Linked DNA regions of Homo sapiens: regions 1 and 3 are each reported to be linked to region 2. Evidence: microRNA targets listed by miRTarBase, many of them from high-throughput screens and not tested one by one. Region 2 holds a microRNA gene; each other region holds the end of a gene's coding sequence.
What was found. The annotated mature microRNA hsa-miR-1972 reads UCAGGCCAGGCACAGUGGCUCA and lies in region 2 at 2,733-2,754, shown strand. An mRNA with a match to its seed (bases 2 to 7 or 8) in the 3' UTR can be bound and repressed. Matches are read on the target gene's strand: a 7mer-m8 pairs with bases 2 to 8, a 7mer-A1 pairs with bases 2 to 7 and ends in A, and an 8mer does both.

Region 1: the mRNA of CCDC59 is a reported target of hsa-miR-1972. Seed matches in the 3' UTR shown: 8mer at 3,373-3,380.
Region 3: miRTarBase lists SNIP1 as a target of hsa-miR-1972. Seed matches in the 3' UTR shown: 8mer at 3,073-3,080.

Annotation. Positions count from the first base shown.
Region 1 is chr12:82,349,567-82,353,812 of GRCh38, forward strand. It overlaps CCDC59 (coiled-coil domain containing 59), which reads right to left. Exons shown (of 4, transcript NM_014167.5): 4 at 2,737-3,746. The coding sequence ends at 3,585. Among named protein-coding and RNA genes, the nearest start is that of CCDC59, 6.7 kb to the right of the region's middle.
Region 2 is chr16:70,027,661-70,031,906 of GRCh38, forward strand. MIR1972-2 (microRNA 1972-2) reads left to right here and starts at 2,686; the gene lies at 2,686-2,762. It also overlaps the pseudogene PDXDC2P-NPIPB14P and the pseudogene PDXDC2P.
Region 3 is chr1:37,533,921-37,538,166 of GRCh38, reverse strand. SNIP1 (Smad nuclear interacting protein 1) reads left to right here. Exons shown (of 4, transcript NM_024700.4): 4 at 155-3,718. The coding sequence ends at 419. It overlaps LOC105378649 (a long non-coding RNA gene), which reads right to left. Exons shown (of 3, transcript XR_947190.3): 2 at 4,184-4,246. Among named protein-coding and RNA genes, the nearest start is that of SNIP1, 18 kb to the left of the region's middle. RefSeq lists an enhancer at 3,302-4,246.

The DNA.
Region 1 (4,246 bases), not on the chromosome of region 2:
ACTTACAAAAGGTCTGGAGAGTCAATAAAACACCCAAGGTAATTACAATACTTGCCTTATACCCACCAAATTTAAAAGGCAGTTATCCTGTACAAAATTATGCTCCCAAAACTCAGTAGTATTTATTGCCAAAGACTACATGTAGCAGAAACTCTATAGCAGGAACTCATGAATCAGTAGGAAGGAAGATAACCGGTGATGGCTTTAGCCTTATCAGAATGCCAGTCACATGAGCTGCACACTTAAACTAAGTTGGAAGAAATTTGTCAGCAACAAGTTAAACTTTTCACCATGCATTTAGCATGGTACTCTATCTTCTCTTTCAGAAAGTGACATCTGAAACACTGATGCTATCTTACCAAGTATAGAATTTGGAGTGGTCCAGTCCCAATCACCAAGTCAAAGGAGACCTGATCTTTTCCCAGTATGTTCAAATATCTTCAGATTCAAAATTTTCTCTTTTACACAGCATTTCAATGACTCTCAGAACAATTTAGACCTTGAGCTTTTCTAGAACTTTATATTGCAACCAAGGCACATGTCTTTAAAAGTAGCAAATACTGATACAGTCATTAACATCTAGCATAGCTATGAATATTTCTTCTTATATCATTAAATCCTTGCCACGAATAAAATTGTTTTCTGGTGTCGAGTTAGCAGCATCTGATGAGTGAGGCCTTTGCTGCTCACACATGCATATTTAATGTAGGCCAAGGTCAAGCTGCAGTAGCCTGCATGAGACCACTTGCACATGCCAGTGCCTTTGTTGATGCCAGCACCACTACAGTAGCTTGCTAAGCCTCACCTTGGGCTGGCATCTGGTGAGGACATCCATGAGGCCAGCATTTGGGTGAGCCCCACTTCCAGATTCTCTGTCTTTGCTGAAGCCAATATGTCTCCATCACCCTCACTCAAACTCTGCTTCATTGAGGCCTGCGCATATGTGCTTAAAGCCCAGTATTGCACATTGTCTCTATAGAAATTACCAATTTCTCTGGACAAAGATATCCTAAACTTTTAGGTCAAAATCCCACGTGCCTTAAGTCTTAAAGCCTCTTGCCAAAACTGCAACTAAAAGCCTACTTCACACTTACAAAGTCAAATTAATAGCCCTAATAGAAGCCTCTACAAACTACCAAGATCAAAGCTCCCTACGTATACATTAAGGTCTGAAACCAGAAACCATAAGCTATGGCCACAATTAAGCCTCTCTCTTTCTATGTTGTGCTCCTTCAAATTTTATTCCTCTTTTATTTCTTGATGTACTAACCCATATAGCACAAATTTCTATATATATTTTCCAAAAATATCCATCCCCCTTCTAACATTTATCAATATAGCCTGTTCTTCACTTATAGTATTAGAATAGCAATTAAGAGTACATGCACTCTGCTGACAGCCCAGGTCCTCCTCCCAGACATCATTTATTACTTTACCTCCCCTGGGTGGAACAAGTGGGACAAGAAGTAAAGATACCATGAGTGTTTGGATGATGGTGTCTTCTCCACATGGAAGGAAACAATAGGGAACCGATAGGAACTATTACCTCCATCAATAATAATATATTCTAACTACTTATTAGATATTTAAATAATACCAAGCTTGCTTCCCTTTGTAACTTTCCTCATGCTCTTACACTTCTAATCTTTTTAACCTCGAAGGCTTTCCTTAAATGCTATTGCACACATGAAACTTTCTCTGATTTCTTAAACCAAACAAAACCTCTTTCTTCTCTGAGGCCCTGGTCCAACATTTTTTAAGTGTGGCGAGGAGCAACCCAGCAGAATCACTGGGGTTGCCTGTTAAAACATCCATTACTAAGCCCATCTACAGTATCCAAATTCCTTAGTGTAGGGTCCTCAAACATGCCTCTTAAGAAGCCTATAGGCCAGGCACAGTGGCTCACACCTATAATCTCAGCACTTTGTACGGCCAAGGTTGAGCCATAAGGATCCCTGAGGCCAGTTCAAAACCAGCCCAGGCAAGGCTGAACTTGGCAAGACCTCATCTCTACAGAAAATGTTAGCCAGGTGTTGGCACGTACATGTAGTCCCAGCTACTCGTGAGGCTGAGCAGGATAACTTGAGCCCAGGAGTTTGAGGCTGCTGTGAGCCATGATCACACCACTGCACTGCAGCGTGGGCGGGAGACTGTCCACCACCAAGATAATAAAAAAAAAAAAAACGAAAAAGGAAAAGCTTCCTGGGTGCTTCATTGATAACACTAAAATCTTAACCTTTTGCTTTATCTGATTGTCACTGATTACTTTTTCCCCCATTATACCATTACTTGGCATTTATTCCTCTACAAGAACTTTGGAATTTTAAAGAGTAACTCCTTAATATAAGTTTTGCATAAAGTAGCTTTTAACAAAGTCGTTAAAATGAATATAATTTGACTTTCACTTGTCTCTCAAAAGGACTAGATCTCCTTCCATGTTTTGTCATGATTAAGTGTCTAGAAGTGAAAATGCACAAAAATTGTAAAGCAATTTACTGAAATAATTTATCCTCCATCATGATGTGATGTGTCTTCACCAATGTAGCCAAATTTAGGCTTTCTGGGCTGCTTACTTTAAATGCAATATAGTGCAATGCAAATTTCTAAAGCATTGCTTTTCTATGCAATGAAGATTAAGTTCAGTGTTATCTAAGCACTTTCTACTGATCTTGAAATGCAGAATAAATTAGTAGACTGAAAGAGCTCCCTAAAATCTTAATGCAATTTCAGACTGTATTTGCTATCATTTATAAAATTTTATTATTCAATATTTGGCAAGTATTATTGGTCAGCCCTTTTTGCTTACAATGACTATATATATATTTCAAGCCTTTCTCATTCTTCTGCAATTTGCAAAGCATGAGAAGCAGTTATCCCAGTGGCTTATCTCAGCTCACAAGGGTACCAACAAGGGAGACAGAGATAATGTTCTTAAAGTATAGGGTCCATAGGAACTGGAAAGCTTAATTCTTGCTGTGACACTGTGGGGTTTCCATCATTATTTAAAAGACCTTAGACTAACAAGCCATGTACATCCATTTAAGGGAATGTTTATAAATATCAGACTTTGAGTTCACTGCTTTGTGAAGGTCGCTTTGTTATATGGTGAGGGCAGTTTATTTCAGCACCCATCACCCTGTAACATGTACTTAAAATAAATAAAAAGTCCAAGAGGAGTCTTTGCCTCCCTCATCATTAAAATAAATTTTAAAACAACGTAACTGTTTACTAAATTGAAATATTTCATTGAAATGCTTCATTGATAGCTCTGATTCCTTATTTTTAAAAAATTTATTTCATATAAATCTCATATGGTACAAAAGTATTACATGCTTGGGCCTGTCTTGCAAAATAAGAGGTTCTTTCAGTTCTTCAGGCCAACCTTCCTTCAGAGGCAAATAAATAAGAAACATGTAGAACATATTTAGAAAATTTTTTACCATAATAAAAATATGTGAACATCTTATATTTAGCATAGTTTAGCAATCCAGTTTATGTCGACAAATTTAGTTCACTGCTGGGAGGCACATGTCACAGAAGAACCTAATAGGCAGCAGATATTTTAACCTGTAGGAACAAAATGTTTAACATTTTTCTTGTATTTTTTGAAGAAGGTACTCCATTTGTACATTCAAGTTTGGTTGGCCCTTTTTAGTCTTTTTGTTCAGTATTTTAAACACTTCCATTTTCTTCTTTTTGTACTGCCTTTGGGCTTCTTCTCTCTCCTGTTTTCTCCTCTCGAATTCCTAAAATTATTAACATATGTAACTTTCATTAGCAACAAACAGTAGATACAGTTCAGAAATTGTCTTGAAATAGCTATTACTAAGCAAACACTCTAAGGTTTGTCTCTTCTATTTTGCAAGATGTGCACTGTTTCTCCTAATTGAAGCAAAGTACCCTCTTTGCCTTCATATTATAATGACCCATGGTATAACAGAGAATTTTCATGATCACAAAGCCCCAGCTCTATATAAACAAAATTTTAAAAGGACATTAAATGTTTTACAGCATAATGGTCATTACTGCACTTCATCTGATATACTGTTTCCAAAGGTGACAGATGGTTGGAAAAAGCATAAAGCTGTGCTAGTTAATACTGGTCCAGTATTCCCATGAAGAAATTTTCCTGCTTTCTCCTAATCTGCCACCAGCTTAAGAACAATGAAAACATTTTTGATGTTAAGAATTCTTAATTACAGATATTCTAAAGCAAAAACAAGCAAAATTACATATCTTTAGGGTA
Region 2 (4,246 bases):
ACCTCTGCCTCCCGAGTTCACGCCATTCTCCTGCCTCAGCCTCCCAAGTAGCTGGGACTACAGGTGCCCACCACCACACCCAGCTATTTTTTTTGTATTTTTAGTGGAAATGGGATTTCACCATGTTAGCCAGGATGTCTTGATCTCCTGACCTCAGAATCTGCCCGCCTCGGCCTCCCAAAGTGCCTGGCCTGACATAATATTTTAAAGAATTTTTTTTTTTTTTTTTTTTTTTTTTTAAGAAAGGACCTCGCTCTGTCACCCAGGCTGGGGTATGGTAGCACAATCTTGGCTCACTGCAACCTCTCTCTCCTGGGTTCAAGCCAACCTCCCACCAAAGCCTCTGGAGTAGCTGGGACTACAGGTACACATCACCACACCTGGCTAATGTTTAGTATTTTTTGTAGAGATTTCCTAGGGCTTTCGCCATGTTGCCCAGGCTGGTCTCGAACACCTGAGGGCAATTGATCTCGCCGTCTCAGCCTTCTCAAGTGTTGGGATTACAAGTGTGAGCCACCTGTAATTTCTCTAGTCTAACAGACAGGTAGTAATGTCTCACGGTGATCTTAATTTGCATTTCACTAATGACTAATGATGTTAAACATCTTTTCAAGTGCTATACATTTTCATTTTCTTTGATGAAGTATCTGCTCACATCTGTTGTTCATTTAAAAAACTGTATTGTGGGCCGGGCACAGTGGCTCACACCTGTAATCCCGGCACTTTGGGAGGCCAAGGCAGGCAGATCACCTAAGGTCAGGAGTTCAAGACCAGCCTGGCCAACACGGTGAAACTCCATCTCTACTAAAAATACAAAAAAACTAGCTAGGTGTGGTGGCGCATGCCTGTAATCCCAGATACTCGGGAGGCTAAGGCAGAAGAATCACTGGAACCCGGGAGGCAGAGGTTGCAGTGAGCCAAGATCGCACCACTGCACTCTAGTCTGGGCAACAGAATAAGACTCCATCTCAAAAAAAAAAAAAAAAATTGTATTGCTCGTGTCCTTATTGAGTTGTAACAGTTCTTTATATATTTTAGATACAAGTTCTTTGTCAAATGTTTTGTAGCTTCTGGGGAAAAGAATGAAAAAGAAATTTTAAAAGAAGACAGGCCTGGGACAGTGGCTGGCTGGGTGTGGTGGCTCACGCCTGTAATCCCATCACTTTGGGAGGCCAAGGCAGGTGGACCACCTGAGGTCAGGAGTTTGAGACCAGCCTGGCCAACATGGCGAAATCTCGTCTCTACTAAAAATATAAAAATTAGCCTGGCATGGTGGCATGCGCCTGTAATCCCAGCTACTCAGGAGGCTGAGGCAGGCGGATCGCTTGAACCTGGGAGGCATAGGTTGCAGTGAGCCAAGGTCGCACCACTGCACTCCAGCCTGGGCAGCACAGCAAAACTCCATCTCAAAAACATAAAAAATAAAAATAGAAAAAGACAAAAAAAAAAGAAATAAGAAAAAAATGTTTTGCAAATATTTCTCCCAGTCTGCAACTTGCCTTTCACCTTCTTAATAGGGGCTTTCAAACAGCTAATGCTTTTAATTTTTGATAAAGTACAATTTATGGTTCACATATTTTGTATCCTAAGAAACGTAACCTAAGGTCACAAAGATCTACTGTATTTTCTTCGAGACATTTTATTGTCTTAGATCTATGCTTAGGTTGATGAACCATTTATAGTTAATATTTATATATACAGAGAATAAGATAAGGGTTAAGATTCAGTTTTTTTTCCATATGGATATCCAAGCTCTAAGACCACTGATGTAAAAAGATTGTCCTTTCTCCCTCGAATTACTCAGGCATCTGTAAAAACCTGAAATGTCCATATACTTCACATGAGTCTATTTCTGAATTCTCTTTTTTATTTGGTTAATCTCACACAATCTTACTTGCTGCTTTACAGAAGTCTTGAAGTATGACAAGGTAAGTCTTCCAATTTTGTTCTTTTTCAAAATTCTTTGGGCTGTTCCTAGGTCCCTTGTATTTCTATATAAACTTTAGAATTAGCTCATCAAGTTCTATAAGAAATTGTAGCCTGTTGAGATTTTAAGAGGTATCGAGTTGAATCTACAGATTAGTTTGGGAAGAACTGACTTAATACTTAGTCTTCCAACCCATGTGTATGGCATATCGTTCTTGGGTCTTCTTGAATTTCTCTCAGTATCATTCTTAGTTTTCAATGTACAGATCTTGCATATATTTTGTTAAATTTATCCATAAATTTTTCATCTTTTTTGATCCTATTATAAATGACATTTAAAATTCAATTTCCAATTCTTCTTTGCTGGTATATAAAAATCCAGAAAATGGTTTAGATTTGATCATTAGTTCCAGTAGCTTTTCTTTAGTTTTCTATCTATACAATCATGCCTACAAACAAAGTTTTATTTCTTCCTTTCTAATCTGTCAGTTTTTTTTTTACCTTATTGCACTGTCTTAGATTTCAAGTATGATGCTGAATGAGATAAGTGGAGCAGCAAGTGGTAGTTGCTCTGCCGCCTATAAGGTAGATATTTAAGTGTGACATTTTATGAATTTTCTTGTTTAATTTTTACAACAATCTTACAATGTCAGTACAATTATTTTTATTTATTGAGATGGGGTCTTGCTATGTTACCCAGGCTGGTATTGAACTTCTGGGCTTAAGCCAGCATCTTGCTTGTCTCCTGAGTAGGGCGACTATAGGCATGTGCCACCACACCTGGCTTAAATGTGTCATTTAAAAATTCAGGCCAGGCACAGTGGCTCATGCCTGTAATCCCAGCGATTTGGGAGGCTGAGGCAGGCGGACCACCTGAGGTCAGGAGTTCGAGACCAGCCTGGCCAACATAGTGAAACCCTGTCTCTACTAAAAATACAAGAAATTAGCCAGATGTGGTGGCACGCAGCTGTAATCCCAGCAATTCAGGAGGTTGAGGCAGGAGAAACACTTGAACCCGGGAGGCAGAGATTGCAGTGAGGTGAGATTGTGCTACTGCACTCCAGCCTGGGCAACAGAGTGAGACTCTGTCTCAAAAAAATAAAATAAAATTCAGTTTAGAACAGGGAAAAGAAGTACATGAAGGAGAAGATAGAGAAGCATTTACAATCTAAATGAAAAAGTATACACACACATAAAATAACTTCCAAAACAAACCAACGATTAAAGAAAAATCTAACGAGCCAACCTTACTATTACAGTTTTTGCTACAATGTGGACATGGACTATCTTAATTAAACATGTGGTACACACACATTTCTTAAGACTTTATCTTTTATAGGCTGAGGATGTAGCCTCGCTCCTATATATTCAAAATGGTAGATTCAGCATCATGCTACCTACCTGCATTTGCGACAAGCAACAGGGGCAGTCTTCCTCGCTCTATATCATCTTTAATCAGTTTCTCCAGGAAGGCAACATCCTGGAACCAAAACAAATCATTAAAAAATGAGGTGCCTAGTATAAAAGCTATAAAATGAAAAATTATGACTTGCAAAAGAAGCAGATAACTCTCAAAAGTAATGTCAAATCAATTCTTACTCTTGACAATTTTTCTGTTTTCTCTCATCATAGATGTGAAAATCAAATAGTTTTCCTTGAAGACTAGAAAAATCAGTTAAACAAGATTAAAGGTAAAAACTGTACATATGCAGGAACATTTCTTTGATTTTAAACATTTACATTTAAATGAAATGTTCTCTTAACTCTCCTAAAACAGCCATGAATGTATCTCTACTATTACTCACTGATGTACCTGAACTAGAAAATAAAACTACCTTGACAAAAGAAATAAAAAACTCTAAAATCCATCCCTTCCTTTTCCTTCTGGAATCATTAAGGAGAGATTTATCACCTGCATGTCTGAAATTAAGCAGAACTCAATTCCACGATGACAATGAAGAACCTCATTTTCAAAATCTGCCCATTCATAAATCCAGGCAACAGTGCTAACTCATTAAAAGTAGGAGCTTCAGAAGAAATTTCTGGTGCTTAATTGAGCTGCCATGTTTCTACTTAAAGCAGGCGATACAGTAATTACAAGACTCCTTAAAAGCCAGGTGCTCCTGACCTATATACCAACCAACCTTCATGGACATTCACATATTAACAGAAGCATATATTACACAATGCAAGGGTCCAAGCAATACATCAGTAAGTTACTAATTATCTGGAGGCCAGCAAAAAGAACTTCACTTGAAAGGCAGTTTCCAAACACAATCCCACATGATTTTACAAACCAAAAGTAGAACTCACCATCTGA
Region 3 (4,246 bases), not on the chromosome of region 2:
CCCCTTGATTTCTTTGATTCCCTAGAATTTTAACTTGAATTGTGCTCAAGCCAGGTTATTTACGTCATCTAGGCTATCTTAGCAAAGAGCTTTAGAGAAGCTGGATGATCTGAGGCAGAAGTTTGCTCACAGGTTTCTCCTTTTTTTCTGCTAGGCTTGTGGAATATACCCGTGCTGATGGCACAGTTGGCCGAAGAGTGAAGCCCTACATCATTGACCTTGGCTCAGGCAATGGAACCTTCTTAAACAACAAACGTATTGAGCCACAGAGATACTATGAACTAAAAGAAAAGGATGTACTCAAATTTGGATTCAGTAGCAGAGAATACGTCTTGCTCCATGAGTCGTCGGACACTTCTGAAATAGACAGGAAAGATGACGAGGATGAGGAGGAGGAGGAAGAAGTGTCTGACAGCTAGCAAACTAAGAACCCAAACTATTGATACACGGTTTCCTTCTTGGAAGTCTTTGATTGACTCAGAGAGCACTATGGTGGTGGGTCCAGCACTATGGTGCTCTCTGTAATGCCTCTTACTGCCTTAAGTCTTTCCTCTGTTGCTGACCAGATTGTGTTACCATTTGAATACACTGACTAATGTTTGTTAAACTTTTTCTGTGGCACCTTGGCCACATGCCTGCAGGCATTTGTTTTCAGAACAGTCTCACCAATTACAACACACCGTGTTTTAGTAGAAGTGTTGTGGTTTTAGTTGGTGCTTTCAGAACTGCTGCCTAGGAAACTATAAACCCTTGGTTAAGGGGAAATCATGGCTTGTTCTCTTTGTACAGTTACTTTATTTATATAGGTGTTAAGCTTTGTGGACCAGGTGTTTTTCTTTTGGGGCGAACCCCTGAGCAGAGAATCTTACTAGGCTTTGGTTATCACCAAAACAACCTCCAGTATATACCAAAGCTTTGACTTGTTTGAGCTCTTGAGCTTAGAAGTTGATTTTGCACTTATTTTTTTGGGGGGTGGGAATGTACTGCAGTCAGTAAACATTATTGACTGTTTAACTTAAACAGATGCTTTATGGCACCTGCTCAAGCCCGTGACTGTACAGAAGGATCCTGGTTGCTACCAGTGGGTGCTGATTCAGCATCACAAGTGACTGAAATTGGCTGTGGATCTGTTCTTTGTGAAAGAATTCCTGATTTCTCCATGGAGCATGTACACAACAATTTTGATCATATTAACTGTACTTCAGTTTTGCATTTTTATTCAAATGTTATCTCTTTTTTTCTTTGAGAAATAAACTGTCACTGATGTGACAGCGTTCTTTCTTTATTCTAATAACATGTATAGATCTAAAGCAGGTTGTGTTGTTTACATGTTTCTACACATTTCATCCTTTAAAAAGTTGTTGAGAGAGGTTGTATTTACCTTCCCAAGGTTGGAAAGCAGGGGAATTTCCCAGTGTCCTAGTTTTCCACCAGAGGAATATGTGTAAGTAGCAAAGTATTTGCTGCTTACATATAGTGTGTATGTATGTATATATGTAAATTGTGTGTTAAAGAGCTGATACTGATTTTCATATGACAATGTTAGGCAAAGGCCTCCCTGCATTTGAAGAGCAGGTTTTCATTTATATGTATTTTTGGGATAAAAAAATAAAATTTGTAAATATAGCCCCATTTCAAAGAGTAATGCTTTCCTAGCGTAGAGGACCTTGTGTTCATAGGTCTGTTTGCTGCTAATGGAGCCTTCTGTCAGTACTTTTGAGATAAAAGTAGGTAGCTGTTTTAGAGTGTTGTGGGGCAGGTTATATCGTTGGCCTCCAAGTCAGTGGAATAGCAGATGGTGACATGGAGGTGGGTTGTGGGGAAAGGTGGTGAAGCAGCTCAATCAGTGTTACTACTAATTGTTCCTCTTGGGTTGAGACTTAGGATACTATTAAATTTGATTGTTTTCCATTGTTTTTATACCCATGTGTGCTCAGGGCTAAAGATTGGCTAGTGGGAGGGGCAGCTGACTAATGTTCATTCAGAAGAAGTTAAAAGATCCTTTGAAAAGTGAACACTTAATAAGGTCATTAGATGAAACGTAAGTTGGGCCGGGCATGGGCACAGTGGCTCATGCCTGTAATCCCAACACTTTCGGAGGCTGAGGTGGGCAGATCATCTGAGGTCAGGAGTTCAAGACCAACCTGGCCAACATGGTGAAACCCCATCTCTACTAAAAATACAAAAATTAGCTGGGCGTGGTGGCACATGCCTGTTTTAATCCCAGCTACTCGGGAGGCTGAGGCAGGAGAATCGCTTGAACCCGGGAGGTGGAGGTTGCAGCGAGCTGAGATTGTGCCACTGCACTCCAGCCTGGGTGACAGCGAGACTCTGTCTCAGAAAAAAAAAAAAAAGGTAAGTTGAAGAATGTGTTCTACATTGGCCACTGTAACTGCTATTTTCTTCATTTTGGTATGTGCCATAGATCATATATATGTGCTTGTCTGAAAAGTAGGTTTGTTTGGATGAACTTTTCTCTTGATCCAGACTGACGGTTTTCTCTTGAGGGTTTAAGCACTAATCTGGTATCTTACTCTAGGATCTCCTTGTTCAGTCTGTGCTGCAGTAGCACTACTTTGTGGTAGCCTTGAGTTTTGCTACAAACTTCATCCTGGTGGGCACTGTGATAGATGACCACTTTGCCTACATTTTTCAGTAAGAAGTCCTAATTGTTTAGTCAGTTTTTATTTTAGTAGAGGAATAACGTCCTGGATTAAGAAATTCTTTATGCCACATATCTGAGAAGGTGGGTTTTTTTGTTGGTTTGTTTGTTTTGAGATGGCGTCTCACTCTGTCGCCCAGGCTGGAGTGCAGTGGCACCATCTTGGCTCACTGCAACCTCCGCCTCCCAGTTTCAAGCGATTCTCCTGCCTCAGCCTCCCAAGTAGCTGGGACTACAGGCACCTGTCACCAAGCCTGGCTAATTTATATATATAATTTTTATTTTTTATTTTTTTTTAGTAGAGATGGGGTTTCACCATATTGGCCAGGCTGGTCTCGAACTCCTGACCTTGTGATCCGCCCCTCTCAGCCTCCCAAAGTGCTGGGATTACAGGTGTTAGCCACCAGGCCTGGCCTGAGAAGGTGTTTTTTTTTTTTTTTGGTCTTGTTTTCCCTTACCCCTTTCTTTGAAGAAAGGGTGTCAAAAGACATTACCTGCCTCTAAAGCCAGATATCACCAGCAGACTTCTTAAAGTGGACATAATCCTAGAGCTTTCATTCTGTTTAGAAGTTCATGTTCATCTTAGCCATTTGGAACTTCTTCATTCTCTATCTTTTCTCCACGGTGGCTGGGCTTGTCTGCAAATCATTGTGTCAAAATCAAACTATTTTCAAAACAGCCCTTTGCTTCTGAGCCCCTCCCCTAAGTCCTCTGTGGGGGTCCATGATTCTGCAGAGGTATGGGACAGAATCTTCAGATTTTACCCCTTGAGTCTCTTCCTAGTCATATCCTGGTTCCCTCATTCTAATATTGACAAAGGATGACTCATTAAGTGCAACTGGTTATGTAACTTTCAAATACTTTCATTGTGTATGTCAGGATCTGAGGAACAAAATGATGTCATTTAATCGGAATCTAAACGTGACACAAACAACGTGCCAGCAATACCTGCTTGTGAAATAATGTTCTGAGCCCACAGTGTTCCTGGGTATGTGAGTTTATATCAAGTGAAAAGGCTGCTTAATTGACATTAAAGTTTTGGAATGTAAAGCTTCATTTGGTCTCTTGGGTAAAATTTCCAGTGTATTTATCAAATGGGAAACAATTCTAAAAACAGTTGTTCACATTTACTCTAAAGTGAATTAATCCAGTCAGCAATAGTTGCATAAGTTTATGCAGTTGGTTTACAGCTAAGTTAGAAAGGGAGCAATAGCCAGGTGTGGTGGTATGTGCCTGTAGTCCCAGCTACTTGGGAGGCTGAGGCAGGAGGATCACTTGAGCCCAGGAGTTCAAGACCAGCCTGGGTGATATAGTGACACCTCATCTTTTAAAAAAAAAGAAAAACAAATAATTTGGAGATGGGCCGCACCTTGTGGAAGAGATGACAGTTGAGGTATACCTTAGAAAATAGTTTGATTTGGAGTCAGTAGTAAAGGAGGACATCATGCCAGACTGAGCAGTCCAGGGACTAGCAGGACTGCAGTGGACTGTGGATAAGACCCTATAAATTAAGTTGTTTACCTCAAGACCCATGACACGTCAGTGGTAAACCTGGGATGAGAAATCACCTCAGTCCTGGCTCAG